Linked DNA regions of Homo sapiens: region 1 is linked to region 2. The links come from fine-mapping of genetic effects on gene expression. A gene starts in region 2. The other region holds a variant in brackets. All regions are shown on one strand. Distances are from middle to middle.

The links. PIP is the estimated chance that this variant, and not a neighbour inherited with it, causes the effect.
Region 1: its variant is fine-mapped to the expression of EPB41L2 in blood mononuclear cells (TOPMed, PIP 0.92).

Annotation. Positions count from the first base shown.
Region 1 is chr6:130,995,927-130,998,846 of GRCh38, forward strand. All of the region lies in intron 1 of EPB41L2 (erythrocyte membrane protein band 4.1 like 2), which reads right to left. Among named protein-coding and RNA genes, the nearest start is that of EPB41L2, 66 kb to the right of the region's middle. The variant T/A (reference allele first, on the strand shown) is at 1,419.
Region 2 is chr6:131,061,970-131,064,889 of GRCh38, forward strand. EPB41L2 (erythrocyte membrane protein band 4.1 like 2) reads right to left here and starts at 1,276. Exons shown (of 20, transcript NM_001431.4): 1 at 1,186-1,276. It overlaps LOC105378004 (a long non-coding RNA gene), which reads left to right and starts at 1,434. Exons shown (of 3, transcript XR_942993.3): 1 at 1,434-1,647. RefSeq lists silencers at 733-832, 1,173-1,512.

The sequences.
Region 1 (2,920 bases), 66 kb before region 2:
ACATATAAATTCAATAGCACAGTTATGAATAGATAAGGAAACTTGTTTTTCCTGTTCTATTATCTGTATATCATAAGTAAATATTCTTCCCACTGGACCTCAGAGTAATAAGGGAGCCAGAGATACTCTGTCTCTTCTTTGGAGAGGGACTGGCCCCAGTATCTGAGTCTCCTTGGAGGGTTTCCTCTCACTTATACCCCTTAGTTACAAAAGAACATCCATATAAAGAGTTGGTTTCTGCCATAAAGTTTACTGTAACAGGATCTGTCCTATACCAATTGTGTATTTATCTTTAAAAGACACAGATGGAATGGCATGACCAAGAGCTTGGAATCATTCTATAAAACAAGCCCAACTGATGCCCAGACATAAACAAACACTGGAACCCCTGTGTACCTCTGCCCCAGATGACAGGAGTCAGGCCAGCACAGATCAGCTCTTGTTGGAAATCAGTGAGCTGGCCCCTCCAGGACGGGTCAGGGCTTATGTGATCTGATCTTTACTTGTTTCAAAGCCTTCTTAAGAGTTATAATATAGACTTGTTACACTTATATGATCCTGGAAAACATCCAAAATGACTAGCCTATGTCTTTCTGATGCACATCTTCTGTAGGCAATAAATGTACACACTTTCTACAAACTGTGAACTTTCAAATGAGTCCATCTAATGAATGAATGAATGAATGCCCTATAGATTAACACTTCCAAAATTAAGTTCTACTACCTTAAGAATTTGTGGCAATGCATCACCCTATTTTGCAAAGGGAAAACAAGTGAATTTAAAAGGATAATGCTGTTGCTTTAACCTATGTGAACATATTCACAGACAAGAGACTGGAAATGTTCAACCAAAATGGTAACGGTAATTATTCCTGAAATGTGGGTACCTGGAAATTTTGCTTTATTTGCATTTTTCTGTTACCAAGTTTTCTGCACTGAACATGTGTTATAATTTTCAAAAATTTAAATAAAGTCCATTAAAATGGAAAAATGTAGGGTTTTCTCCCTTTAACTCTATACTCCTTAACAGTTTTAAGGGCAGTACAAAACAGGATAACTAAGTCCCAGCAAAGTTATAATAAATTGGTATTGTGCCATGTGGTATAGATTTACCAAAAACACAGAGGTACATTCATACTATTCCTCTTTGAGCTTGGCACTATACACAAGAAATCACTGGACTCTGAGAAGCTTTCAGACACTGTTACATTAGAGGACTTTTCTTTAAGTTAGATTTGAACTGGATTTAAAAGAATGAAAGGAATTTCCTGGATTTTATCACAGCAATTTCCCAGGAGATTTTTCCCTCAGTTCTTCATACAAGGATTAAAGCCACTTAGCAAATTAGAGAGTGTACTTGCCACTTAAAACGCTATTAAGATCATGTAAATTAAGAGGTCTTTAAAAAGCAATGCACA[T/A]CAACAAAAGACTTAAGAGTTCCTGCTCAGAAGTTGTTTTAACAGTTTCCTATGAAGGTAGTCAAAAAGCATCAACCATCTGAGGTCACATCTAAGTGCAGGGGGGATCTACTTTCAGACCACACAGAGCTACGAAGGGATCAGGGAACACATATCTACATTAGATCAAGAAAGAGCCTTTCTTTGTTATATGACAACTGTTACTGTCAAATTTTCTCTACGACTTCATTAAAATATCAAGCACAATACACGCACAATTTAACACAGCACAAGGCGGACAGGGACGTGTTTTTCAGGACTGCAAAATGGCATCTGCAGAATGTCTCAAAGGAGTGACAAAGGCACTTCTTTAGCCCTAACAAAGAGAACAATGTTTCCAGTAGGACACTACAGGACTATTGCATTTCAGGGGGGAAAAGGCAGTGAAAATTAACACAAAACAGAGCTAAACATGGAGAATGACAGTCTGTAGGGAAGAATTAAAAGAAACTATTGGACACAAGTTTCACTCATTATTGTATATAAGAGCACCTAATGTTTTAAAAATCGAGTTATTGCAACTGTTAAGTTTGCAAATAAAATTATAACTAAAAAAAATCACAAAATAACCTTACTTATCAACTGAATTAATTTGATTCATAAGCACTGTATTTCTATAATTCCTGTTAAAAGGTAGTTTATAAACAAGCAATAACAGTATTATGATAAGCAATCTATGTGTATCATTTCATTTAATTTCTCACGACCACTCTATGAGAAATGTACTACCAATGACTCCATTTTATAAGTAAGGAAATTGAGTCTTAGAGATATAACATAGCTCAGCATCAGACAGATCTGAGTTTCAATTCCAACTCCTTCACTTACTAGCTATGAGACTTTGACTTTCTTTCCAAGATCTTTTGAATTCCAAGACTATGAAAATCAAATAATTTTCACATGGATTAAGGACAAATTCTTTTCAAAAATGGGACAAGAACTTTCCTATAACACCATACAAAAATGGAGCTAGTTGCTTAATGAATTGGGGGTGTAGGGGAAATTGGGATACACCCACCCAAGATCAACCAAGTAACACTTGCAAAACACTGTTAAAAGAGTAGCTTAAGAATGCCTTAGGAAAAAAACGAAGAGAAGGAATGATGAGAGTTAGGATTAATTACAAAATAAATAGCATATCTGAATAGACTGGATGGGGAAAGATGATAATCAGGATACTAAACTGATTATTCCTCACTTTATCTGAGGTGTATGTGCTTAGTTATCTTCAGTGGACAGTACTCTGAAAAACTATTTGATGATTTCTATATTGTGAAAAAACAACTTCAGCCATAGTTACAAACAGTAGACTCTGATTACAGTAAATAAAACCAGTAAATAAGTTAGCAACAGGTAAATTTTTCTCCCTATGACTATTTGTTTCATAAATTGTCAATCCTACTTTGAATCCCAGGACACTGCTACCCAACTAATCTTCCTGAACTCCAGTTCTGATCATATCA
Region 2 (2,920 bases):
GAAAGATGTGATTCAGAAAAGCGAAAATATAGCCACAGCTCCTCTAGATTCCACCTTCTCTCCCATCCACCCAGGGATCTTAAAATTAAGGGCAGCTGTGGTGTTGATGGGGCAATTCAATGAAAGACTACCCGGGTCCGTAGGGAGGGCTCCATACGCAGACCCCTCCCCAAAATAATAGACTCTAGGCAGTAGTTCTTCTCACCAAACCTCATTTTATTTATACATATATATAAAAAAAAAAACTTGACCTCAGGGGAGGTGAGCGATCTAGAGAAGCATAACTGATGTCCCACCACAGACCTCAGGCTGCTGGGGGCAGCGTCTGCGCCTGGGGATGGCGTCCCCAGACGCCGACTTCAACCCTGTCGCGCTCCTTTAGGTTCTCCTCGCCCTTCCCCGCTGCTCACCTAAAAATGCTCCCAACCCTCGGCCCCCAGGCGCAGGAGGAGAAAAAACAAGCCATCTGTGGTGAGATGGCCTGGGTGTGGGAATTGTAAGGATCGGAGCACGAAACACGCGTCCCTCTCCGCAGCTCCCAGACGGCGCAGGCGGCAGCTGGGGGCGCGGACGCGAGCCTACAGCGGGCCCGACCCGCACCGCGCGTGGGGCTGGCGCGCCGCCCTCGCCCGGCTTCCCGCAGTCCCCACGCGCGCGGCCGGCCCGCGCTTCCCCTCCTAAAACCTTCCTCCTGAAGGGCGACGCCGCGGCCGACCCCCTCCCCGCGGGGGGGATGGAGCCGGATTTTTCCCGCTGTTGCTCCACGGGGCCCGGACGCGTGACCTGAGCCCACGGCACCCCGGGGGGGACGGCGTCCTCCCCGTGCCCCCGCCTTTCCTGGCTCCGCCGGGACGCGGCCCCGGTCCCCCGGAAGAGGGAAGAGGGGGACCGCGGGGAGCAGCGAAGCCGGGATCCGGCCCGGAGCAACAGGACCCGGACCCCCGGGCAAGAATCGGGTCGGGCAGAGACCGGGAAGGAAAGGAGAGAGGGAGCCGCAGAAAATCCCAAAGCCGGGCCCCCTCTCCCCGCCCCCCATCCCGGTGGGACCGTCCCGCCACCGCTTCCTGCCCGGAATCAGCTTCCCAGCTGCAGCCAGAGGAAAAATCTGAGCCGCCCCTGCAACCCCACACTGACCAGTCGCCCGGCCCGTGCAGCCCCGCACGCCTCCTTACCCCGACGCCGTACCTCAGGAGCTCGCTCGCCGCGGGACCCGTCCCTCTTCAGTCCCAGCCGCCGGCAGCCGCGCCTGCCTCCTCCCTCCGCTAGGTTTCAAATTGAAATTCCCTGACTGGGGCCGTCAGAGGACTCTGAGGGCCGGCCCCGCCCCCTCGCGGCGGAAGCCCCTCCCGCGACCCCGCCGGACGAGCCCCCGGCGCGGAAACCCCCGCGGGCGGTCCCGCCCCCGACGCCCAGGCCCCGCCCCTGCGCGGGCGGGGGACCTTTCCCGCGGGATTCGGCAAGCGCGGCCGCGGAGACCCGGGGGTGGAGGACGTCTTTCGCCCTCAGGGCAGCCCGGATGACAGCTAATGCGCCTGGGCAAGGCGTTCTCAACTGCGATTCCCGGCCTTAAATGTCCTCTCAACTTTTAAAAGTTATTTATTCAAAGTGCATTTGCTGACTAAACCTTCACTGAGCGCCTTCCTAGAGGTAAACACTGGAGCAGAGCCTGGAGATGCAGAATAAGGAAAACTGGGTCTCCCTCAGTCTAGAGTGGAAAAAGTGCTTTCACAGGAAGGGCATTGAAAAGGAACCATTTATTCTTCCTGTGGGAGGGACAGGAGGGGTTGGGGAAACCCCGTGGAGGAAAGGCCTCCCCAGAGTAAGTAGGATTTCTCTGGGCAGAGGCCTGGGAATCTGGATTGCAGAGCATGACCACGGGTGAAGAAGAGTCTGGAAAAAACCTAGTTTGGGGCTAAATTGTGGAAAGCCACAAGCACACACACGCTACCCTTCTGGTTCTTTTCTTTTGTACAATGAGGTCAATATGTTTCAGATTCAATATATTTCATCTTTTGAAGGTTTGCACGTCAAGCTGGTGTCAAACAACGTGTCCAGCTCACTGCCTCCAGCATCTGCCTCACACGCACCTCTTATCCCTTTTACTCCTCCCACTTTTATTGAGGTCTTTAGTGATTCCACCACAGCCAAAGTCGTCTCCCTTTCTTTCCTAAACAGAACCTTTTCCAAAATTAACAATGTCAAATGAAACCTCAGTAACAATACCTTCCAGTTAACAAAATACATTCACATATTTTATCATCATTTGATCCTCACAATCACCCTATGAAAAAGGCAGGCACGTTTGAGCTCCATTACATCAAAAAGATTTGGGAAGATAAATTATTTGCCAAGGTCCTTCTAGTAAATAATACAAATAATAATAGTTAAGGTTGATTGTGTGCTTTATGTGCTAGGCATTGTTCTAAGTCCCTTACATGTATTAATTTAATCACAATCCCATATGCTAAGTATACAAGTTAAATTTTATAAGGTGTGCTAAAACAGAGCAGAAATCTGATTAGACAGCAATTCTGGTAAAGGAGACCTGGGAATTTAATGAGAAAATACTATTATTTTCTCATAATAAGAAATATGCAGCAGATTTACAACGAAACTAATGAAACAAACTTCGGGATCTCTCATTTTCACAAGCCTTGAAACTAACTTTATAATTTTGTATTTCATTTTGTGTTTTTTAAAGAGTCCCTAAAGTCATATAAGCTTTTGGGCCCATAAAACATTGAACCACCCTGATGGAGCCCCCTTTAAAATGCTAGTGCAAAATAACATAAATATAGGCATAGTTAATAAAATATAATGCCCTTCTCATAAGAAAGGATATGCTTACTATACTCTGCGTTGAAGTACATGAATCACTCCTATATGCCACCTCTTAAGAAGAAATTTTTCCCTCCAAAAG